5 separate regions of the Homo sapiens genome follow, and all the other regions are linked to region 4. Evidence: fine-mapped expression QTL. A gene starts in region 4. Each other region holds a variant in brackets. All regions are shown on one strand. Distances are between the middles of the regions. Region 1 overlaps ZNF804B (zinc finger protein 804B). Region 2 overlaps DBF4 (DBF4-CDC7 kinase regulatory subunit). Region 3 overlaps RUNDC3B (RUN domain containing 3B). Region 4 holds the start of ADAM22 (ADAM metallopeptidase domain 22). Region 5 overlaps SLC25A40 (solute carrier family 25 member 40).

Region 1 (5,109 bases), 920 kb after region 4:
ATTGCTGGGTCAAATGGTATTTCTAGTTCTAGATCCCTGAGAAATCACCACACTGACTTCCACAATGGTTGAACTAGTTTACAGTCTCACCAACATTGTAAAAGTGTTCCTATTTCTCCACATCCTCTCCAGCACCTGTTGTTTCCTGACTTTTTAATGATCGCCATTCTAACTGGTGTGAGATGGTATCTCATTGTGGTTTTGATTTGCATTTCTCTGATGGCCAGTGATGATGAGCATTTTTTCATGTGTCTGTTGGCTGCATAAATGTCTTCTTTTGAGAAGTGTCTGTTCATATCCTTTGCCCACTTGTTGATGGGGTTGTTTGTTTTTTTCTTGTAAATTTGTTTGAGTTCATCGTAGATTCTGGATATTAGCCCTTTGTCAGATGAGTAGATTGCAAAAATTTTCTCCCATTCTGTAGGTTGCCTGTTCACTCTGATGGTAGTTTCTTTTGCTGTGCAGAAGTTCTTTAGTTTAATTAGATCGCATTTGTCAATTTTGGCTTTTGTTGCCATTGCTTTTGGTGTTTTGGACATGAAGTCCTTGCCCATGCCTATGTCCTGAATGGTATTGCCTAGGTTTTCTTCTAGGGTTTGTATGGTTTTAGGTCTAACATTTAAGTCTTTAATCCATCTTGAATTAATTTTTGTATAAGGTGCAAGGAAGGGATCCAGTTTCAGCTTTCTGCATATGGCTAGCCAGTTTTCCCAGCACCATTTATTAAATAGGGAATCCTTTCCCCATTGCTTGTTTTTGTCAGGTTTGTCAAAGATCAGATAGTTGTAGATATGTGGCATTATTTCTGAGGGCTCTATTCTGTTCCATTGATCTATATCTCTGTTTTGGTACCAGTACCATGCTGTTTTGGTTACTGTAGCCTTGTAGTATAGTTTGAAATCAGGTAGCATGATGCCTCCAGCTTTGTTCTTTTGGCTTAGGATTGACTTGGCGATGCGGGCTCTTTTTTCATTCCATATGAACTTTAAAGTAGTTTTTTCCAATTCTGTGAAGAAAGTCATTGGTAGCTTGATGGGGGATGGCAATGAATCTGTAAATTACCTTGGGCAGCATGGCCATTTTCACGATATTGATTCTTCCTACCCACGAGCATGGAATGTTCTTCCATTTGTTTGTATCCTCTTTTATTTCCTTGAGCAGTGGTTTGTAGTTCTCCTTGAAGAGGTCCTTCACATCCCTTGTAAGTTGTATTCATAGGTATTTTATTCTCTTTGAAGCAACTGTGAATGGGAGTTCACTCATGATTTGGCTCTCTGTTTGTCTGTTGTTGGTGTATAAGAATGCTTGTGATTTTTGCACATTGATTTTGTATCCTGAGACTTTGCTGAAGTTGCCTATCAGCTTAAGGAGATTTTGGGCTGAGACAATGGGGTTTTCTAGATACACAATCATGTCGTCTGCAAACAGGGACAATTTGACTTCCTCTTTTCCTAATTGAATACCCTTTGTTTTCTTCTCCTGCCTAATTGCCCTGGCTAGAACTTCCAACACTATGTTGAATAGGAGTGGTGAGAGAGAGCATCCCTGTCTTGTGCCAGTTTTCAAAGGGAATGCTTCCAGTTTTTGCCCATTCAGTATGATATTGGCTGTGGGTTTGTCATAGATAGCTCTTATTATTTTGAGATACGTCCCATCAATACCTAGTTTATTGAGAGTTTTTAGTATGAAGGGCTGTTGAATTTTGTCAAAGGCCTTTTCTGCATCTATTGAGATAATCGTATGTTTTTTGTCGTTGGTTCTGTTTATATGCTGGATTACGTTTATTGATTTGTGTATGTTGAACCAGCCTTGCATCCCAGGGATGAAGCCCACTTGATCATGGTGGATAAGCTTTTTGATGTGCTGCTGGATTCGGTTCGCCAGTATTTTATTGAGGATTTTTGCATCCATGTTCATCAGGGATTTTGAAACCAACGAGAACAAAGACACAACATACCAGAATCTCTGGGACACATTCAAAGCAGTGCGTGGAGGGAAATTTATGGCACTAAATGCCCACAAGAGAAAGCAGGAAAGATCTAAAATTGACACCCTAACATCACAATTAAAAGAACTAGAGAAGCAAGAGCAAACACATTCAAAAGCTAGCAGAAGGCAAGAAATAACTAAGATCAGAGCAGAACTGACAGAAATAGAGACACAAAAAAACCCTCCAAAAAATCAATGAATCCAGGAGCTGGTTTTTTGAAAAGCTCAACGAAATTGATAGACCACTAGGAAGACTAATAAAGAAGAAAAGAGAGAAGAATCAAATAGATGCAATAAAAAATGATAAAGGGGATATCACCACCGATCCCACAGAAATACAAACTACCATCAGAGAATACTATCAACAACTCTACACAAAAAAACTAGAAAATCTAGAAGAAATGGATAAATTCCTGGACACCTACACCCTCCCAAGAGTAAACCAGGAAGACATTGAATCTGTGAATAGACCAATAACAGGCTCTGAAATTGAGGCAATAATTAATAGCTTACCAACCAAAAAAAGTCCAGGACCAGATGGATTCACAGCCTCATTCTACCAGAGGTACAAGGAGGAGCTGGTACCATAACTGCTGAAAGTATTCCAATCAATAGAAAAAGAGGGAATCCTCCTTCATTTTATGAGGCCAGCATAATCCTGATACCAAATTCTTTCTTCCCTTTCTTTCTCCTTTCCTTTCTTTTCTTTTTTTTTTTTTTTTTTTTTTTTTTTTTGTCACTGCTGCCCAGACTGGAGGGC[A/G]GTGGCACACAATCTCGGCTCACTGCAACCTCCACCTCCCAGGATCAAGCGATTTCATGCGTCAGCCTCCTGAATAGTTGGGATTACAGGCTTGTGCCATCATGCCCAGCTAATTTTTGTAGTTTTAGTAGAGACAGGGTTTTGCCATGTTGGCTATGCTGGTCTCCAACTCCTGACCTCAGGTGATCTGCCCACCTCAGCCTCCCAAAGTGCTGGGATTACAGGTGAGAGCCACGGCACCTGGCCTGCATTTCTTTACCTATAATTATCTATCTCTCTTGACCTCTAATGTCACTAATTCATAAATAGCAAAAAAGTCTAAATACTTCTCCTCAAATTAGGCTAACCTCTGAGTTTTTCTTGCTGGGTATTACTTTCCTAGTTTCCTTTCTTCAAGGTACTTTCACCAACATAAAGCCTCTTGTAGCAATTAGTTAAATTTGATAAATTTTATCACTTATTGGAAGGATAGAAAGTAACTTTAGCAACAAAAATATGAAAATAAGCATGAATATTACTTGAAGTCAAAGGGTAGTTAGAGATGGGGTGATGATTCTTTGTTTAAAATTAAAGCCATTACTTTTTATACAGTTGGTGATTATCAGAGAGGGACAGAGAGAATGGGGCATGCAATAGAATTTGATGAATATTTTATAGTTGGTGAAAATAGAAAAGCAGTTACTAAACACTGCCAGATGATGTGCTGCTGTAGGATCCCTGAAGTGGTAGAGCAGAATGAACATACTGGGGTACTTTGAGGCCAAGTACAGACATGATTAAAAAATCTCGTTAACAGAAAGGCCATAATGAATTATATTTATAGTAATATTGAGATAATAATAATATCATTTGAAAGACTTTTGGAGACATTTTAGCGTGGATAAACATAGTTATTTTCCAGAATAATGATTTTGAAAATAACTGTTAGCATTATGTATTTGAGAAAACACAGCGGCAACAACTGTGAACTTGATGCCAATATTTTCTGACTTTTTGTTTTTCTGGTTCTATAGCTATAAGGTAGGCATATTTTCAACAGTAATTTTAGGAAATAAAACAGCTTGAGATGGAAGATTATTAATGAGGAGGCTTATGAACATTCCCTGAATGTTTAGGAATGGATATATAAATGAACACCATTATGAACGCATTAAATATTAATATTGATATTTAAGTATATATTTTACTTATCATTGGACCTCTGTCTAATGAGCATATAGGTTTTATTGGGTTTATTTTCAGGCAACGCTCTTCACCAATCAAATGAATAAGAATGAGGAATTTTTGCTTACTTTAGGAGCTATGGGTGTGCGTGCATGTGTGTGTTTGTGTGTGTGTGCTGTTTCTGTATGGGTAATATTTAGGTGTAGTGTTTTGTCTATATTTATCTAAAAACTTATGACTTAATGACAACTCATCAGATACAACTAATGAGTTTAGCAGAAAAATTGGATTAGGCCATTTTTTCATCTGTTTTACAAAAACTGATATAAGCCAGTTTAATAAAAGGGCACAAGCTTTTCTCTAAATGGTAATTTTATAAGACATTTAAAAATAATAATTCAATCTACTTTTATGTGGGTCATGATTTATGTGAGTTATGTGAATCATGATTCAGCAAAATTTTATTTGGGGAATAAGAATATACTATTCTCTTTAATTCTCTCTTTCATTAGTTTGAATAACAACTTAGCACCATAATTTACAGACATAATGTTTTCTAGTTTTGATCTGACAACTTAAATCTAACAATTAATAAGATAATTTATAAATAATCAGGCCCATTAGGACAGAAATGCTTTCCATAGCAATTATGTGCAGCTAAATGTTTCCTCAAGGAAACATTTGACTCTATGTCCATGTGCATGCATATGGAAATATAGTGTTATTTAGATATAAACTAATATCTATTGTTTAAGCTAATATTATATAATAGATATCTGAGTATTCAGAAACAACTTAAAAATGTGCTTTTAGTCAAAAGGATAATTCCTGAAATTTATTACCTTCATTTAAAAAATATAAATTTCCTTATGTACTTCAAAAAGAATAAAGTTATGGAGCTGTGTAAATTTCTCTATTGAGAAAAATCAATATTTTATAAATATTTTTAAATTATAGAAAAAGTAAGGTTAATATTTGATGTTTTATACCTAAACTTTCAAAAATATAATGTTCTCTTGCGTCTGTTTTCTTTTAAAATCTGGTTACACTGACTTCAGATATAATTAAGAACTCTGCTTTGTTATATTTGGAAAATCAAAACATACCAGATTTGAGCTGATAGAAAAAGAAAATGCTCTTGCTCAGAGTATTACAATATAAAATATTGTAGAGGGCAATAGTATATTCAAAACCTT
Region 2 (5,109 bases), 23 kb before region 4:
GAAAATTCAGATAATCTGTTAACAGCGTTTTTCTCGTCCCCTTCAACTTCTACATTTACTGGCTTTTAGAATTTAAAAAATGCATACTTTTCAGAAGTGATAAGGATCATATTCTTGAAATTTTTATAAATATGTATGGAAATTCTTAGGATTTTTTTACCAGCTTTGTTTACAGACCCAAATGTAAATATTAAAAATAAATATTTGCAATTTTCTACAGAATTGAATACCTGTTAAAGAAAAATTACAGAATAAACTTGTGACTGGTCTTGTTTTACATTATATATATGTTCGTAATTGTTTCCTGAGAATTACAATGAATAATAATTTGCTTTGTCACTGAAAACCACCAGTGAAGTGCAATTTGGGGAATATCAAACTTAGCATTATACATTTGGATATTCTAGTTGTATTGTAAATTTTAAAAGATTATCAGGATAACATGACCTTGCCTTGAAAAACCTAAATTTCATACAGAAAGGAAAAATACATTTCTATGCTTGAATTCTGGAAATCATCAGAAATATTGACACTTGAGGGTCACTGGTGGACCATGCTAGTATTTTGGTGCTGAGTAATTAGATTATGTATAGGGGTAACTGGAAGCCATGAAGGAAGGACTTAACCAGGCTACCAAGTGGAATATAATTTATCTGCTATTTTTAATTACTTACCTTGTAAATAACTTTAATAATATTCAAAAGTTGACTCTCCTGTGGCTCATGCCACAGGATCCCAGCACTTTGGGAGGCCGAGGCAGGCTGATCACGAGGTCAGAAGATCAAGACCATCCTGGCCAACATGGTGAAACCTTGTCTACTAAAAATACAAAAAATTAGCTGGGCATGGCGGCATGCGCCTGTAGTCCCAGCTACTCCCTCCAGAGGCTGAGAATTGCTTGAACCTGGGAAGTGCAGGTTGCAGTGAGCCAAGATTGTGCCACTGTATTCCAGACTGGGTGACAGAGTGAGACTCCATCTCAAAAAAAAAAAAGTTGACTCTACCCCCTAATTTGGTAGGAGATGAAGGAGAAAAGGATGGCATTGAATTATAGATACAGTTTTGGGATATATACAAGGATTGCCTTGATCTGGCACTTACTGATACAAGCATTTGGAGAAGAGAAAATTCAAATATAAGAAATTTCAATTTGAATCTGTGGATATAAGGCATTTGCCTTTGAGTATGTTCTTGTAGGAGTAAGACTACCACCAGTGACATTCAATTGGTTCTATTGCATAGTACATGAATCTATTGTCACTAAAAATTAGGTTACTAATCTTAATTTTTTTGAAATATATGATTCTCAGTACAGGACTAATTCATATGCTTTTCCTGCATACATTATTTTGATCATTTGGATAACATCAATGAACACTGGCTTTTTAACACCTTTGTTTTTCATACCAGTACCTGAAGTAGGCTCAATAAAAGAGTCTTTACAGTGCATACACGCAAACCCTGTTTCCATTGTAAATTATTGTTCCATTTTCTATCACAAATACATGTATGTATGTGTAAACATACGTAAGGTTTCGTAGACAACCTTTGAAAAATCTAAATGGAACTTGGAAAATTATTTGCAGGTTTATTTCCCTTTAGTTATCAGTGTTCCCCAAATTTTCCAAATAACTGAAAGGTATGTAAAGTCACTGTATGATCCTTTGACTTTAAGAGTAACAGTGTCTGGCTGGGCGCGGTGGCTCACGCCTGTAATCCCAGCACTTTGAGAGGCCAAGGCGGGCGGATCACGAGGTCAGGAGATCGAGACCATCCTGGCCAACATGATGAAACCCTGTCTCTACTAAACTACAAAAAATTCGCTGGGCATGGTGGTGCGCTCCTGTAATCCCAGCTACTTGGGAGGCTGAGGCAGGAGAATCGCTTGAACCCCGGAGGCAGAAATTGCAGCGAGCCGAGATTGTGCCATTGCACTCCAGCCTGGTGACAGAGCGAGACTCCGTCTCAAAAAAAAAAAAAAAAAAAGTGTCTTCAATTTACAGTGGTACTCTGGGCATCATTTTACATTAAGTTATACTTACTAAGGAGAAAAAGTCTGAACCCTTCAGTAAAAGTTGTTAAACTATTTGACACTGGATATTGGACTTTTGGAACACCACATGGTCTTCATAATGAGTATTCAGCTTTTTTCAAGTGCTTAAATTTCAGTTTACTTGGAATAATTTCAGTTTACTTGGGCCACCACATACAGTTTGGATTGTGCTGTGCAGCTATGCAGATGGGCACCCAGCCAGTGAGATGAAGGCAGGTTATTTGCAGCAAGTAGTGTGTCCTGGCAATGAGGTGCATCTACCTAGAGGTAGGGGTAGTTTTTCCTATTTTTTACCAAGGCACAGCCAAGGTAGTGTTTACCCAGAAGGTTCTTTGCCTTTTTGTTTTTGTTTGTTGTGTGTGTGGTTTTTCTTTTTTTTTCTTTTTTTTTTTTTTTATTGTTTTTGTTGTTGTTGTTTTGATACTAGGTCTCTCTTGTCCAGGCCTGGTTACCATGGTGCAGTCAGCTCACTGTGGCCTCAGACTCCTGGGCTTAGCTGGGCACTGGCTCATACCTGTAATCCCAGTACTTTGGGAAGCTGAGATAGGAGGATCACTTGTGATCAGGAGTTCAAGGTCAGCCTGGGCAGCATAGCTAAACTTCGTTTTTACAAAAATATATATACACATACATATACATATATATATATGTCTATATA[A/ATATAT]TATATATGTATAATATATATATTTGTCTATACATATATAGACAAAAGTCTATAAAAAGTCATACCACGAGGCCCTCATGGTATGACTTTTGGGTTCCCACAGGAGGCAGACTGAGATGGAATTTGGTATGCAGATGTTTTCTAAGGGGTGCCTTTGGACACCAGTTGACCCCACAGGCAGCTTTTCAAGAGTTGCTAGGTGAAGATGACCAATAAGTCATTTGAGTATGGGTCACTCTAGGAAGGAGCATGACTGTGGGCAACGAGGCTCCTCAGCTGACACAATCCCTGAAGGAGCTGACAGTAGAAGTTGAAAGCTGTTTACTGTCAGTACTCCCAGAAGCTGGGGCAACAAGTTACTGAAGAGGGATCAGGATCAATTACCCCACATAGTGATTCTGCCTGTTGGGTTATTGGCACAAGGAACTCAAAACGGCCGGGTGGTGGTCGCAGCTTATAATTCAACAGGAGTCGCTGAGGTAGGAAACACATTCAAGAGGGTCAAATAAGTGACGGCAAGCAGGTCTACTCCTGTTCCACTCATGGGTTGCCAGACTTATTTTGTCGGGGGCATAGCACCATAAAAACATCTTGAACTCCAACTGTATACTGCATCTTAAATGACAGCCTATTCTCAAGAATATCACCTCCATGCTGATGCTAATTAACAGGCCCTTCCAATACTCTATCAGGAAGCTTCTGGTTGATTCAATATATAATAAGGCTTGTGGATTGCATGATCATGGGCCTACCCCCATGCCTCCTTTGCTGTAAAGGACATCCCCTGGTCTGATACGAAGTTATATATGATGCCACGCCAGTGAAACTCTAAGTCTTAAAAATGCAATGTGAACGACAACAACAACAAAAAGACCTGGCATGTCTATTACTGTGTCCAGTATAATCGACTAGCCACTTCATGCCTAGTTTCTGGCAGTTTGGGCATCTGGCAGTGACAAAAACACTAGCTCGGCTTTGGCGAATAGGAACCTATGCTATGGAGCCCAGAAATAACTTCCATTACTGCCCACCATGACCGCTTTACTCATATGCCCATTGTGCCAGCATCAGGGTAGTATTAACATGCAGTATGAGGAGCCCACACTTCATGCCCACTCCCATATGCCACATGCCTCTATACTTTCTACTGAGTCTTCCAATCTTTCTCTTTCCAGGCCCCTTAGTAGCCAGTGCAAATTATTTCTCACTCCCCAAGACTGTACATATATGCTAAGCTCAGCCTACTTCTCTTTTCACACAAAAGCAATGACCAGGTACCCCACTTGAAATTCTGCCCATTGGCAAGATTTTTCCCTTGTGACTGGCTTTCAATGCCACCACTGAGTAGCCATATGGCAGTTGCCATCTATTTTCATCTTGTAGCCACGGAAGCAACCCATCCATTAACTAAATTTGGGCTTTCCTCGTTTTTCAGCTGGTCTTAAGGGATGACCCATACATCTGTAGGTGTGACCTGAGGGAGAGGCATTAATACAACAATGAATGACATGGGGATCTCAGCCGCCTGTTTATGCAACTTCCTTGAGCTCTCTGGTCCTGCTCTTGCTCAATCCTAAATAAACCAATTCTATTTTACAATGGATTGTTGCTGCATCTGCCTGGTGCTATGACTTGGTAGGTCTTATAAAACCCCAGTTCATGATGGGTAGTGTTGACCACATGGTGGGTTTCGCCTCATGGTCAGGTGTTCCATCTCATACATCATCATCTCATACAACAAAGTATTTTTGCTTTTCAAAAAGTGTGTGACTCTCCATTAAAGAGGGACTGGCCTTACTCTAAAATCCCTTATTTCTGGGCTGTGATTCCTTTACTGTGGGCAGGGAAGTTGCCATAAATTCCTCACAGCATCTTTTCCTACCGCTAAATCCAGAACCTTTGAACCTGCCTGATCATATGGCTGCAGAGCACTTTTCTGCTTGGAAGCTCCACTCACAGTTGGAAGCCTTTCCTGCCACTGGGTTGAAGCAGTATTCCCAGTTGGAACTGACTGCCTTCAGAACCTGAAGAGGCCTAGCAGACATTATGCTTCCTTCATGTTTGGAAGGTTCAGTAGGCAATAATTTGTCTTTTACTTTGGATAGGATTTCCCAGCATGTCCCTGACCAGTGGAACTCTGAAAATGTTACTGATATAACAGGTTCCTGAATTTCTCACCCTATGGAGAACATGTGTCTTATCAAAGTTTCCAGTGTACTAGCAACTTCTTCCTCATCTGATTTGATAAATATATCATCAATATAAAGGGTTAATGTGATAATCTCCATGGCATCCAGATGGTCTAGATTGTTCAAATTATAACAAAGGACAAGAAAGTTTAAATAGCCCTGTGGTAAGACTATAAGTGTATACTGTAATCTTTTCCCTGTGAATACGA
Region 3 (5,109 bases), 150 kb before region 4:
CCTGGCAAATGGCTGTGGGATCCCCCAAACAGATCTCCCTCCAGTGTCTGCCCCAGGAACAGACCTAACCAGCTAGATTTGTTCCAAGCTTTCTGTGCTGAAATTGCGGGGCTGTCCCAAGTGTTCCAGGCCATGGGGCTCCCTCAAGCAGAAGGTACGACTGGTCAACAGACTGAACCCTTCCCAGGCTGGTCTTGTGGAAGGAAGGATGCCCAGCTCCCTTGGCAGCACATGAACTCACGCCTCCCTGTTTGTGTTCTGAGTGGGGGCTCCCTCCTCACTAGAGCTGTAACCACAGATCCCAGTTCTGGAACCCTGGACAGTGTACTCCAACCCTGGGAGGTTGGGACTGGGCCTGCAGCTTTGTCCTCTGGCCCCATAGGGTTGAACACCAGCTGTGCTGGGGAAGCTAAACTGCTCCCAGGTCACTGGCAAAACACTCAGGCGGGGCAGTGCAGGCTGTGCTCTGTGCACCCTCTTACAGGAATGGCGAGGCAGGTGGCTTTGAGAGGAGCTGGAAGACAAGGGGGCATGTGGATCAGCCTTGCCCAATCCCATGAGAAAGGGAGCACTACTTTCTCCTGGCTCTGCAGTCAGTAGGGGCTCCAGTCACTCAGAGCAAGATGGAGAGACTTAGGGGATGGGAACCTATGGTTGCCTTTTGCTGTAGCTGTCTCATGTTCCATGAACCCTTCTGAGCTCTGCACAGGTTTGAGCTCTGCCTCTGCATACTCTGTGGGCAATTCCTTTGCCAACTCAAATGTCTGTGTGGGTTGTGGGATCTTTTATAGTTAGGATCCCCGAGGTGTGGTGTTCTGTAGTTCCTTCACTCCCCCCTTGCTTTGGCTCTGTTCAGGACCGAGAGCTGGTCCTTGTGCTAAGAGATTCTATGCAGGCTTTCCAACTTCCTTTTCAACCTTGGTGTCTGCATCACCTCTCTCTCAACTTTCAGTGTTTTCTCTCAAACAATCTGTTTGAAATGTGATGGTTTACTTGATATTTTGGTTTCTCTTGAAGGGAGATGTGTTTCCTGGCTATATCTAATTGGCCATCTTGTCCCCTGCCTCCTAAAAACGTTCCTAGAATTGGACTCTGCAGACACTGTCCCAGTAGCAGCCCAGCTCCACTTCCTCCTTCCAGTGTTATTTTGTAATGAGATACTTTGAGACTAAGTATCATAGACTAAAAATCATCATAAAAGATGATTTTTAAAGTTAGAAAGTTTTATTAAGGAACAAAAAATTTTAATATTTTTTAGGAATTTGTATTTTGATGAAAAGAATTATGTTTACATATTTTTTCTTCTTTTTTTTTAATGGTATTTTAAAGAGAGTTTGTCCTATGAGGCATCACTGGGTAGGGAAGAGATTAACACCTTTCTTAACCCCTTGCTTCCATTAGCAGGGAGAAAAATATCAAGAGCCAAACAGTAGAGATTTCTGGTTATTAAAAACCAGATTTCTGGTTATATAAAATTATAATTTTACAATTAAAATATTAAGAAGATAATTTCATTTTTCTTTTACAAACAATACTGGTAGTTTAAATGCTTTTAACATAAAATAATTATGAAATCACTTTATTTTTTCAAAAGAGATGTTTTCATTTTAAGAATTAAATTTAAATGGATCACATTTATCTTACTTTGGATAATTGAAAGGAAACAAAGACTTTCAAACTTTCAAGTTTGAGAAATTAATCTACCTGAGTTATGATTCTGTCGTATTTCTGGATGTAGGAGTGCCATTGATCCTCTTGATTTTTGCAAAGGAAGCTTTCAGTTGTCTTTAATAACCTTAATTTAATACCTTTAATTTTAATTAAATATTACTGGAGCAACAAAATAATTATGGCCACTGATCAGAATTAGACTATTTTCTTGAGTTGAGAGGTTAAAGATTTACTTTCATATAGTATGGCTTCAATTTTTAGATAGGCATAAGGCATAAATTGGTGTCTTCTAAGATTCTTTCATACAAAAACCACTTTCAAGGATACTGAACAGGAGCATAAGATACATTTCTTTGTGAATGTTCACAATTCACTACTTTATCAGAATCAGCTTTAAGAAATGCAGAACAGTGTGGATATTTTTGCAGCTATAGTGAAAGAGTGAATATGTTTTATCCTTATCTTGCTGAGATTTTTAAAAAATCAACTGTCAAGAAGGCCTATAATCAAAGTTGGGCATTGAAATTTCCTTTGTTACTCCTGAGAAGATAAAAGTAGCCCTCAGAAAATTAAAATTGTAAAGGAAAAGGCCAGAGAAGGAATACTGATAGGTAGAATATGAGGCATGTAATATTTGCTTCTACATTGTGTTGATTTTTTTTCCTGGGCAATTTAAATCCTGAGTCACTTAGTTTTATGTATTTCTTGATGATTAGATGTATTTTGAATTACTATTAAAA[C/T]GCTTTTTGATTATGTCGTTGAATACTCATAAAATATATACATTTTGTAGTTTGGGCAACAGAGTACAAGTTAGTGTGGAGTATTACAGGAGCATTCTAAAGCTGTCTTGAAAATCAGGACTGTGCTCTACACTTTCCAGTTGTGAGGTCTTAATGTTTCTTCATCTATATAACAGAGATAACATACTCACTTTGTGAACCATTATGAGTATTAATGGTGTTAAGTATATAAAAAAGAAGGCATTCAAAGGTTTATTCCTCTGCTTTTATATATGGGAACCTTAAAATCTCCTTTATAAATTCACTCAGGGAGATAAGTAGAAAATTAAAATCTTTTGTCAAAATGCTACGGATCAAACAATGAGTTTTGACTCTATCATATTATCCCCAAGTTCCAAGAAACTCACTTTTGAGTTCTGATTTCCAAACGGCAATGGGATTAATCTTTTAAATAATAGTATTTGTATGTACCATGCCTGTAAGACATATGTGTTTGCTTAACAGGTATCACTTGTAACTGTAATTCTTTTTGTCAGTCATATGTTTGATGCAATACTAATTTAAAGTATTTTAAAAGGCATTGACAAAGGTATATTTGAATGATTAAGATTATGGTGGGCCAAGCACAGTGGCTCATGCCAGTAATCCCAGAGCTTTGAGAGGCCAAGGCGAGAGAATCACTTGAGGCCTGCAGTTCAAGACCAGCCTGGAAAACACAGCAAGACCCCCATCTCTACAAAATACGAAAAATTAGTTGGGTGTGGTGCTGTGTGCCTGTAGTCCTAGTTTTTTGGGAGGAACTATGATGGCATAAGTGCATTCCAGTCTGGGAAACAGAGTGAGACACTGTGTCCAAAACAAAGAGAAAAAGATTTTGGTGGTTAGAATATTTAAGTATTGAATCATTTCAATCTTCTACTATTATGATTAGTAATAATAGTATAATTTCATTGGGAGACACAGGATTATTCTAGGTTTTGGTTCTTATGGTTTTATGGAAATCTGTGTACAGCTTGACTTTAGTTGGCTCCAGTAACTGTTTTAACTCTTATTTATATATTAAATTTTATTCAATAAAAGAAATATAAACAAGCTTAAAGTACCAATTGTACTTTGGATCAGTATATGGAAAGTTTGTTAAAAGATTAAAAAATGTATTTGTTTATGGCCTTTTCAAAACTTTTTTTTTTTTTTTTTCTTTTCTTTTTTTATTATACTTTAGGTTTTAGTAGGGTACATGTGCACATTGTGCAGGTTAGTTACATATGTATACATGTGCCTTTTCAAAACTTATTGTCATAATTATTTATGCTAATTGGTGGAAAAACTTCAGTTTTGAATTTAGTATTTTTCAGTAAACATATATTTAAATGTATACTTTGTACCTGAGATTGCCCAAGTAGTTGAGAATATCGACAATAATAAGGCATGTTCTCTTTTTACATGGGATTCAAAATCTCCTGAAGTAGTTAGATTTAACATCAATCACATTGTTACTTGAAGGGTGCCATATATAAGAGAGGGGTTTTGTCAACATCTAGAGGTACAGACTGTCAGATAGATGATCTATTGTACAAATGATTCTTTGTAAAACATGCATTCCAACCTCAGGAATAAATAGCCACGGAACAGCTTGCAAAGCTTGAACACATTTGTCATATTTAACACCAATAATTGTTTTCTATTTTGTTTTCCTAGTTAGCTGATGAATGTTTTTTCTCTTTATGGTTTGAAAGATTATGGCAACAGTAACCTGTCCTATATGGTTTCCTAGTAAAGAAACTGAAGTGTCACTCATAGTGAAATATAAGTAAAGAATAATTCATTGTTAAAACTAGGCCATTGTTACAGTTGAAAAGCCAATTTAGTGTAGTTCGTAGTGAGTACTGATGGCATGATCTATCAGCCTACAAACCATAAGTCAGTGATACTATGCCATTCTGATGCACAAGTTTAAGATGAGTGGTATGAATCCTAACAAGAGTGCAATGATGACATTATAACGGACAGATTATGACAGTTTCTACTCATCTGGTCATGTATACATTTTGGCAGGTAATAATTCTAATTAAAATTTAAAATTAAAATCATGTTAATATGTATTATATAATCTACTGCCCATATATGGATGAAAAATCAAGAAAATGTATCCAGAAGAGAAAAATGCCAAGCCCCAGAAGGATAAACCATGTTCTATTGCACTTCCTTGGGTATTAATCGGAAATTAGATATTACAACAGGAAAGAGTAGTAATTTGATATTGATAGTATTTCCTCTGCCTGAAGAAAGAGCAAGAACGACTTTGTATTGTGGTTTGAGTGCCAGCTTACCCTCAGTATAACAGAACATAAAGTAAATTATTAAAGTTTTTGACTGCCACCCTTGGCCCCTAGACAGCATCTCTGGACCCACCCAGGGCCTGGGCAACTCACTGCCCTGAAGGGAAGGACACAAGCCTGGCTGGCTTCACTATCTGCTGATCCTGGAACCCTAGGGCCTTGAGTGAACATAGGTGGTAGTCTGGTAGTGGTTGCAGCAGTGCTTGGGTGAGACCCAGTGCTGTCCTAGCTTCAGGTATGACCTAGTGCAGTCCCAGTGATGGTGGCCATAGGAGGGCTTACATCACCACACCCCCAGTTCCAGGTGGCTGAACACAGAGAGACACCCTGTTTGTTTGGGAGAAAGTAAGGGAAAAGGA
Region 4 (5,109 bases):
TACCACCATTATCCTTCACAGAGCTAGAAAAAACAATCTTAAAATTCATATGGAACCAAAACCCACATAGCCAAAGCAAGACGAAGCAAAAAGAACAAATCTGGAGGCATCACATTATCTGACTCCCAACTATACTATAAGGCCATAGTCACCAAAGTAGCATGGTACTGGTATAAAAACAGGCACATAGTCCAATGGAACAGAATAGAAAACCCAGAAAGAAAGCAAAATACAGCCAACTGATCTTCCGTAAAGCAAACAAAAACACAAAGTGGGGAAAGCACATCCTATTCAACGAATGGTGCTGGAATAATTGGCAACCCACATACAGAAGAATGAAACTGAATCTTCATTTTTCATCTTACACAAAAATCAACTCAAGATGGATCAAGACTGAAATCTAAGACCTGAAACCATAAAGATTCTGGAAGATAACTCAGAAAAACCCTTCCAGACATTGGCTTAGGCAAAGACTCCATGAGCAAGAACCCAAAAGCAAATGCAACAAAAGAAAGATAAATAGATGGGACCTAATTAAATGAAAAAGCTTCAGCACAGCAAAAGAAATAATCAGCAGAGTAAACAGACAACCCACAGAGTGGGAGAAAATTTTCGTAAACTATGCATCTGACAAAGGACTAATATCCAGAATCTACAAAGAACTCAAACAATCAGCAAGAAAAAAACAACAACAAACAATCCCATTAAAAAAGCGGGCTAAGGACATGAATAGACAATTCTCAAAAGAAGATATACAAATGGCCAACAAACATATGGAAAAATGCTCAACATCACTAATTATCAGGGAAATGCAAATCAAAACCACAATGCGATACCACCTTACTCCTGCAAGGATGGCCATAATAAAAAAAAATAGATGTTGGCATGGATGCAATGAAAAGGGAACACTTTTACACTGTTTGTGGGAATGTAAACTAGTATAACCACTATGGAAAACAATATGGAGATTCCTTAAAGAACTAAAAGGAGATCTACTATTTGATCCAGCAATCCCACTACTAGGTATCTACCCAGAGGAAAATAAGTCATTATACAAAAAAGAAACTTGCACATACATGTTTATAGCAGCACAATTTACAATAGCAAAAATATGGCACCAGTCAAAAGGCCCATCAATCAACGAGTGGATAAAGAAAATGTGGCATATATATACCATGGAATACTATTCAGGCATAAAAAGGAACAAAATAATGGCATTCGCAGCAGCCTGGATGGAAATGGGGACTATTATTCTAAGTAAAGTAACTCAAGAATGAAAAACCAAACTTTGCATGTTCTCACTCATATGTGGGAGCTAAGCTATGAGGACACAAAGGCATAAGAATGATACATTGGACTTGGGGACTCAGGGGAAAGGGTGGGGGATGGTGAGGGATAACAGACTACACATTGGGTACAGTGTACACTGCTCGGGTGATGGGTACACCAAAATCTCAGAAATCACCACTAAAGAACTTATTCATGTAAACAAACACAACCTGTTCCCCAAAAGCGATTGAAATACAAAAATAAATAATAAACACTCGGAAAAAAAAAATAGCCTCAAGTAACTACTGGCTACAGTATTTGAAAGGCACACCTCTAAATCTTAATTTTTTTCCTTTCTAAAATGGGAGTAGGCATGTGCAGTGGCTCACATCTGCAATCCCAGCACTTTGTGAGGCCAAGGTGGAGCCCAAGAGTTCAAGAGCATCCTGATCATCATGGGGAGACTCTTGTCTCTACAAAAAGTAATAATAATAACAAAAAATAGCCAGGTGTGGTGTCACATGTCTGTGGTCCCAGCTATTTGGGAGGCTGAGGCAGGAGGATGGCTTGAGCCCAGGAGCTTGAGCTGCAGTGAGCCGTGTTCTCACCACTTGCACTCCAGTTGGGGCGACAGAGCAAGACCCTATCTCAAAAATACATACATACATACATACGTACATACATAAATATAAAATCAGAGTAATAGTTATAATCAAATTCTTGACCAAAGGATCAGATAATACATGTGAACTTTGAAAAACTAAAAAATACAAGTATTACTTTATGTAGATAACTATTTTATTATTGTTTTATACTCAAGAATTTCTATCATTTTGAATCAGAGGAAAATGGAATAAGCAGCCTGAGAAAACTGAGTTCCCCATATCTGGTAGAGTTTTGAGGCTGTCTGGCAATAAAGAACAAAAATATCCCGTAGAGTTAAGCTAAATCATCCCTCTATTACCTGCAGAGACCTTCCCTGGGAGGTCCTCTTTGACTCCCTGGACTGAATTAATGGTCCTCTAGGTATAACCATGACACTTTTCACACTGTATTGTAAAAAAAAGTGGTCTGTCTGCTCAACTTTACCCAAGAACAGGTGCCTCTGATCCCCGTGTCCTTCCGGTTGTCAACCGCTGGGTACATAGTATATCCTCAATCTGTATTTGTTGAATAATTCACTAGCACTGTATTCGTGAGGGTATGGTTCTCCGGATAACTTAAGTAACTACTAATCTGTGGTAAACAGAACAGCTCTTTAAGGACGATGCAGATGAATACTGGCTGCTGTAACGGCCCAGTTGGTGCATCTCGGATGCCAGGAGGCGGTCCAGTGCTGATCTCTTTCTTTTGCCCTTCCCTCCCGCCCTTCCAGTCTGTGGGATATAGAGGACCTCACAGTCACGAGGTCGCGACGGTCCGTGCCGTCGTGGAGACAAGCGGGACACGGAGAGAGAACTACATTTCCCAGCTGACTCTCCTGCGCGCGCCCTTGCCTGCGCGCGGGGGGCGAGTGCACCGGGCGCTCGCTCCCTGCCGAGCTCTTGTCGCCCGCCCGAGCCTTTGCCAGGGGATGAGGTGGGAGGCGCTAGAAACCACTTAGCTACAGCCAACCGCCCAATGCAGCACTCGCTCGCTCCCCCCGCCAGCGGAAGCGTCCGCGAAGCACAATGCAGCACTGAGCCGCGGTGGAGGTTGCAGCGCCACGGCCGCCGCAGCACCGGCCGGGGCTGGGTGGAGGTGGCCGCGGGGACCCCGGGGGCGCGGAGCGAGGGAAACGGACTCGGCGGCGCCGGCATGAGGAGCTGAGCGTCTCGGGCGAGGCGGGCTGACGGCAGCACCATGCAGGCGGCAGTGGCTGTGTCCGTGCCCTTCTTGCTGCTCTGTGTCCTGGGGACCTGCCCTCCGGCGCGCTGCGGCCAGGCAGGTAAGTTAGCCGTCCTCTGTGCCTTTGGGCCATACCATTTCCCGGGAATCTTTGGAGCCCTCAGGCGTATTGAAAAGGGGGCATCCCCATTTCCCGAGTGCGCGGGGAGATTTTTTTTTTTTTTTTTTTTAATTCGGGAGGGTGGTGAGAAGTGGAGCAAAAATATATGTGTGGAGGCGCGCAGATGCACTGGAAGCCTTCGGTCAAAGCCTGTTTTTCTCCTTCTGAAGAGGAATGGGGAGAATGGGAAAGGGGTGCCCTGCTTCTGGGCCCCGCTCCTGGTTGCTCTCGGATGAGCTGGTCCAAGGCTCTCGGGCTGGTGTCTCTGCGTCCTTCCCAGTTGGGTTCCGAGAGGGAGGGGGCGGTGGGGATTTTCGTAGGGGAGACGTAGGACTGCAGGATGGAGGAGTGAGGGTCAGGGTCATTATTTTCGCCTTTTCTCTCCACTCCCTCCTTTCCCGGTTCCTGCCTGGAGGAGACGCCTCATTGATGGAGCTAGAGAAGAGGAAGGAAAACCGCTTCGTGGAGCGCCAGAGCATCGTGCCACTGCGCCTCATCTACCGCTCGGGCGGCGAAGACGAAAGTCGGCACGACGCGCTCGACACGCGGGTGCGGGGCGACCTCGGTGGCCCGCAGGTGAGAGGCTCGGTCCGGGAGGTGGTCCTCCGCGCCTCCCGGCCCACCCGAGACCCCACGATTGCGCTCGGTTGCCCTGGAGATCCCATGTCTTCTTGGGTGAAATGAGTTGGGTCCCGATGCGAGTCATGCATGGCGCTCCCTGTGCAAAAAAGAAGGGGAAAAGGGTACAAAAAAGAACCAAAATAACCACAGGCCGAGGGCTTTGCCCGAGGGGAGTTTGTGCGGGGTGCCTTCAGCAGTGCGGTGAGCTGAGAGAACAGGCGGAGAGCCCTCTGACATCTGTCAAGCAAAAGCCAGGCATGCACAGCGAGAAGGGAGGTAGTATTTGGGCAGGGTTTGAATCATCATTGTTGTTGTTTTACTCCTCAAAGAGACTTCATAAGTGATTTAACCCAAGGTTGACACTGTAAGAAAAAATTGGAAAAAAACAAGGCTAGACGTTCTTAAGAAACCCAACTGTAAAAACAAGCTGAACTTTAAGGTTCTATTCGCACACATTTGTGGACACCAGAGATATGCCCATTCACCCCTACCTTCTAGAAAAGGTGTCCTCCTCCGACTTTCTTTATTGGTAGCAGTTCTCTTGGTTTAATTAGGGCTGTGCTGTTTGTTGAGCATTTATAAATTATGTTTTTAAAAATCTAGTTTTTATCACTGTATCTGTATTTAAATCAAGATCACACATTCACAGATATGCCTGAAAATTACTGTGAATTTATTGACAAATTTAAGTAAATACTTCTGGGGCTGTGTATTTTTTTATTTCTACACATCAGCTGATCAGGCAGTTCACCCACCTGTAAGTCCATATTAAGATAGGACTTGTTCATGTACTTGAAAATTTTTGTAAACTTTACTGAAGCAATGGCAAGCCAAACCTTTTCACATGTATAAATATATTCATCAGTGCTTTAAGATATATCTTGATGATGTGATAATTATACTAACTTATCTGTATGTGTGAAATATGTAAAAATAGAAAATATTACTTAAATCTGTATTTGTAGCCAAGTAGTTGGTACTGTTAACATTTTGTTAATAGAAGGTGGGAAATTAGCTTAAAGGGCTACATAATATCCATCAAAGATTATTTTAGTAGAAAATCCCAATATGTTAAGCTTTTAATGATGGATTCTTTTATGTGAATTAATGGTTGGTAAATGCCTATTTTCCTTTTCCATTTTGACTCGTTTCAATGGTAAAACTGAAGAAGCAGGGGCCATAGTTTCCCTATGTCATCGTATTTTTCAATTAATTAAGATTATTTCTGTGGA
Region 5 (5,109 bases), 75 kb before region 4:
AAACTACTATCCAGAAATTAACCAAGCTGTCTGATAAAATAATAAATTTCCAATCACTATATTCAAGCAATAGTTGTATGATGGTCATGAATGCTCTAACATGGGCACAACTTTTGGACACAGGAGTAAGCTGGATTCTAAGGTCCCTCACAAATATAATTCTGTTCTTACCTCTGAGGCACAAATACAAATACATAACCATCCTTTGCTTTAATTAGTAGGTCCATATAAATATTATGTATTTATTTGCTTTTTGCCTACACCTCATCACGTACAACTAAATGGTGAAAAAAAAAGTTTTTCATGAGGATAAAGAGGCATCAATTTTAATAAATTAGCAAATGAATGTTAGGCAAAAAAAAAAACCACAGGAACATTTAAAAATCAAACATAACATTTTTAGGGCAATTAGTACACATACCTTTGGGGAGTGGGTTGTTTTGGGCTTGGAGTCTAATTTTAACAACATCCAGGGGTGTCACTATGAAGATATGTTAAGTTTCAATTAGCGAGTGGTATCTGTAAATTGGATAGATGTTTTACACAGAACACAAAATACATTGATTCATACTTTTCCTCATGGCTATATAATTGGTAAGCTTATTTATCTTAAAGTAGTCTTGAATGTAACATTCTAATTTTTTTGCCCTTAAATTTTGTTAATCAGTGAAAGACAGACGAATTACTTCTCTCATGAGTACTAAACTGTTATTTGTAATATTCCTACAACTATCATTACATTAGCATTAAAGTCAGTATTTATAAGAAAATATGATTTCTAATATAAGAAGTAAAAGTTCCAAAAGACTTTGAGAATAACTTTCTATAAGTAATCAATAGCCAAATGATATTAGTCTTCCCAATCTGTTAAATTTACCTGTATCAAATAAGAGGTACAGATAATAAAAATTTGAGTAAACTAGTCATAAAACATCTTTAGCACTAAGTTATGTTATTCCATTTGGGCATAGCACAGCAAAGGAAAATAGTTTTAATATGCATGCTATATTTTATCCAAGTAGAAACAAATGCCAAATAATGTTTCTAAGAAAACTTTTCCTCATCTTGAGAATGATGATAATTATATTAGATGATCTCTATGACCTTTATAACTCAAATTCTGACCTGAAAATACATCATAAGCAATTAATTTATTTGTTCTAATCATTTGTTATTTACATAAACTAGCCAACTTAAAAATCATTAAAATGCTAAACTATCACCTAACTGTGTCATTTGGCTACATCTACAAGAAGCTGACTGTAAGAAACAGAAAACTGTGAACCAGAGAAATTTAAGAAATTCCGTTAATGCAAAGTAAAGATTATTTGTAATTGTTACGAACATAAATTGTGAAAATTCTGTATTATTCATTATGCTAATATTTTATTCCATCTTCTTGCTTTCTATTATAGACATGGGGAATCAGAAAAGTTTAATGTTGATAGGGACCCAAAAGAAATCCCAGTTATAAGCCCCTAATTTACAGATGAAATAATGAAGTTCAAATAAAAGTTAGATACTGTTCCCAAGTGTATTCACCGTGAGAATGGCAAAGCAAGGACTCAAGTCTCTTGAATCTCTGTCCAGGGTTGTTTTCATATAATAATATGATGAAACATTCATGGATCATAAATGATAGTATGTGTTGCAGGAAGTCAGGGATCCTGAATGGAGGGACCAGGTGGAGCCGCAGCAAAGGAACATAAATTCTGAAGATTTCATGGACATTTACCAGTTCCCAAATAATACTTTCATAATTTCTTACCCCTGTCTTACTTTAATCTCTTAATCCTGTTATTTTTATAAGCTAAGGATGTACATCACATCAGGGCCACTATGATAATTGTGATAACTGTACAAATTGATTGTAAAACATGTATGTTTGAACAATATGAAATAAGTGCACCTTGAAAAAGAACAGAATAACAGCGATTTTAGGGAACAAGGGAAGACAACCATAAGGTCTGACTGCCCGCAGGGTCGGGCAAAATAGAGCCATATTTTTCTTCTTGCAGATAGCCTATAAACGGACATGCAAGTAGGGAAGATATTGCTAAATTATTTTCCTAGCAAGGAATATTAATAATTCATACCCTGGGGAAGGAATGCATTCCTGGTGGGAGGTCTATACATGGCCACTCTGGGAGTGTCTGTCTTATGCCGTTGAGATAAAGACTGAAATACGCCCTGGTCTCCTGCAGTACCCTCAGGCTTACTAGGATTGGGCAACTCCACCCTGGTAAATTTGAGGTCAGACTGGATCTCTGCTCTCAAACCCTCTTTTCTGTTGTTTAAGATGTTTATCAAGACAAAACGTGCACTGCTGAACATAGACCCTTATCAGTAATTCTGCTTTTGCCCTTTGCCTTGTGATCTTTGCTGGACCCTTATCAGGAGTCTGTGATTTTGCCCTTGTCCTGTTTCCTCAGAAGCATGTGATTTTTGTTCTCCTTTTTACCCTTTGAAGCATGTGATCTTGTGACCTTACTC[C/A]CTGTTCTTACACCCCCTCCCCTTTTGAAATCCTTAATAAAACTTGCTAGTTTTGCAGCTCAGGTGGGCAATCACGGTCCTACCAATATGTGATGTCACCCCCGGAGGCCCAGCTGTAAAATTCCTCTCTTTGTACTCTTTATTTCTCAGCCAGCCAATACTTATGGAAAATAGAAAGAAACTACGTTGAAATACTGATACTAAAACTCAAATGGAAGCACTGACTCATTCAAAGTTACATAATCTACATCAGTAACATAATTTTACCTATTACTGATGTCAGTATAGCTCCAGTACATGAGGCAAGCATTTGTTGAAGAGGTGTCACTTTGATAATCTCTTGTCCCCTTGTCTCAGGATCCATATTTTTAACTAATTAAATAAAAACCTGTTAAAAAGAAAACATAAAATTAGAGCACATCCTCTGATCTTTCAAAAATGATAACATCCTTCAGCTAAGCTGGGTGAGCAGCATCACATTAGTAAGACAACTAAGAGAGAATTAACCAAACAGATACTGACAGAATGAAAGCAGGTGACCACTAAGTCTGAGTCTGTGAACTCAGCCTCATACACACTACTAAAAAAACCTCCCCAATAGAGTACAGAGGTATCAGCAAATACAGCCCTTTATTGTATACCAGTAGTTGTTGTACAGATGTAAAATAAAAACACATAACCTTAATAAGTTTTATCTTACAAAAATTTGATGAGAAAAGCAACATAAAAACATAAAAAGTTTTAAAAAGTCAGATAATACAGAACAGTATAAAAATAACTTATGAACTTACTATTCAAAAATAATCACCGGCCAGGCGTGGTGGCTCACACCTGTAACCCCAGCACTTTTGGAGGCCGAGGCGGGCGCATCATGAGGTCGGGAGATCGAGACCAACCTGGCTAACATGGTGAAATCCTGTCTCAACTAAAAATACAAAAAATTAGCCAGGTGTCTGTAGTCCCAGCTACTCGGGAGGCTGAGGCAGGAGAATGGCGTGAACCCAGGAGGCGGAGCTTGCAGTGAGCCGAGATCGCACCACTGCACTCCAGCCTGGGCAACAGAGCAAGACTCTGTCTCAAAAAAAAATAATAATAATAATCACCAGCAACAGGAATGTCATCTTTCCAAATGTCTATGAACATACACACATACATATGTATATGTCTATACACACACATTACATCTAACCAAATATTGTATATTAATCAAACACACGTACACTTATGTGTCCGTGTACATACAGCTTTTCTGAAAAACAGGTCAATACTATTTTGCTTGTTTAGTAGGCTGCTTTAACACTTAAAAACACATTATAGACATTGTGTCAATAAAAACAGATTTACATTTTTATTGCTTGCACGGTAGTTAATTATATTTATTTAATCAGTTTCAGATTGTTAGATATCAGGTTGTTGCCAATTTCCAAACTATAAAATATTCTGCTATAACATTCTTATACATACATATATATATTTTTGTAACCTTCCTACAATTACTGTAGGAAAGATAGTAAGATTGATGGGATAAGCTATTTTAAAACTTGATACAGGGCCAGGTGTGGTGGCTCACACCTGTAATCCTAGCACTTTGGGAGGCCAAGGCAGGTGGATTACCTGAGGTCAGGAGTTTGAGACCAGCCTGGCCAACATGGTGAAATCCAGTCTCTACTAAAAATACAAAAAATTAGCAGGGCATGGTGGCGCAAACCTGTAGTCCCAGTTCCGTGGGGGACTGAGGCATGAGAATCCCTTTAACCCAGGAGGCAGAAGTTGCAATGAGCCAAGATCGCATTACTGCACTCCAGCCTAGGTGACAGAGAAGACTACATGTCAAAATCAAAACAACAACAACAAAAAAAACGTCATACAAATTGCCATGATGCTTTCCAGAAAGCTTGGATCAATCTATACTTCTACTGGCAATATGAGAGTTCCTACTTATCCATGACTTATCAAATTCTCTGTCAAATTACATATAATTTTTTTTCTGAACCATTCAAAAGTAGGCTGCATACATCATGTCCCTTCACCATAAATACATCAGAATATTATCTTATATAATCACAATACAATTATCAAATTCAGGAAACTTAATTTTGAACCGTACTCTACAGTTCATATTCCAATTCTGTCAATAATATCAATAATGTCCTTTATCAAAATAAATAGTAATTTTATTGATTCTTTAGACTTTTATTATCTACCTACCTGGTTTGAGTCTGTTCTTCAACTCTATGCTCCAATATTTTATTGTTTGTAACATCAGTAGCCAAAAACCTGTAATTAAGAAGAAAGTAATTGTCTTATCTTTTCACACAGGAAAAGGATAATAAATCTAAAAGAAAAGAGTACATAAAAACTTTAATACAAAAATCAACAAATACTCATTAAATGCTTTCTACTAATTGCTTTGAAGAATATAAAGAGCACTCCATAAATGCAAGCATTAGTTATAGAAGCATTTTCACAAAAACCTCATGTTATTCTAGTTAATATACTCTGCTTTAAAAACAAATAAGCAAACGACTCTAGAGCCCAAACACAGTGATTAATCTTAGCATCATTTACAGTAGAACAACCAGATTTTGTAACACAAAATTAAAGGGCCAGCATCAT

What was found. PIP is the estimated chance that this variant, and not a neighbour inherited with it, causes the effect.
Region 1: its variant is the best candidate, but not a certain one, in a credible set for the expression of ADAM22 in tibial nerve (GTEx, PIP 0.77).
Region 2: its variant is the best candidate, but not a certain one, in a credible set for the expression of ADAM22 in whole blood (INTERVAL, PIP 0.66).
Region 3: its variant is the best candidate, but not a certain one, in a credible set for the expression of ADAM22 in whole blood (INTERVAL, PIP 0.78).
Region 5: its variant is the best candidate, but not a certain one, in a credible set for the expression of ADAM22 in whole blood (INTERVAL, PIP 0.52).

What each region holds. Positions count from the first base shown.
Region 1 is chr7:88,855,128-88,860,236 of GRCh38, forward strand. All of the region lies in intron 1 of ZNF804B (zinc finger protein 804B), which reads left to right. Among named protein-coding and RNA genes, the nearest start is that of TEX47, 62 kb to the left of the region's middle. The variant A/G (reference allele first, on the strand shown) is at 2,750.
Region 2 is chr7:87,908,095-87,913,203 of GRCh38, forward strand. It overlaps DBF4 (DBF4-CDC7 kinase regulatory subunit), which reads left to right. Exons shown (of 12, transcript NM_006716.4): 12 at 1-1,459. The coding sequence ends at 69. Among named protein-coding and RNA genes, the nearest start is that of ADAM22, 24 kb to the right of the region's middle. The variant A/ATATAT (reference allele first, on the strand shown) is at 2,712.
Region 3 is chr7:87,785,113-87,790,221 of GRCh38, forward strand. All of the region lies in intron 8 of RUNDC3B (RUN domain containing 3B), which reads left to right. Among named protein-coding and RNA genes, the nearest start is that of SLC25A40, 89 kb to the right of the region's middle. The variant C/T (reference allele first, on the strand shown) is at 2,412.
Region 4 is chr7:87,931,355-87,936,463 of GRCh38, forward strand. ADAM22 (ADAM metallopeptidase domain 22) reads left to right here and starts at 2,897. Exons shown (of 32, transcript NM_001324418.2): 1 at 2,897-3,196; 2 at 3,672-3,832. The coding sequence starts at 3,112. RefSeq lists a silencer at 2,800-3,209 and enhancers at 3,316-3,893, 3,894-4,471, 4,020-4,069, 4,080-4,159.
Region 5 is chr7:87,855,871-87,860,979 of GRCh38, forward strand. SLC25A40 (solute carrier family 25 member 40) reads right to left here. Exons shown (of 12, transcript NM_018843.4): 2 at 4,702-4,770; 3 at 2,761-2,881; 4 at 422-481. The coding sequence starts at 2,857. Among named protein-coding and RNA genes, the nearest start is that of SLC25A40, 18 kb to the right of the region's middle. The variant C/A (reference allele first, on the strand shown) is at 2,494.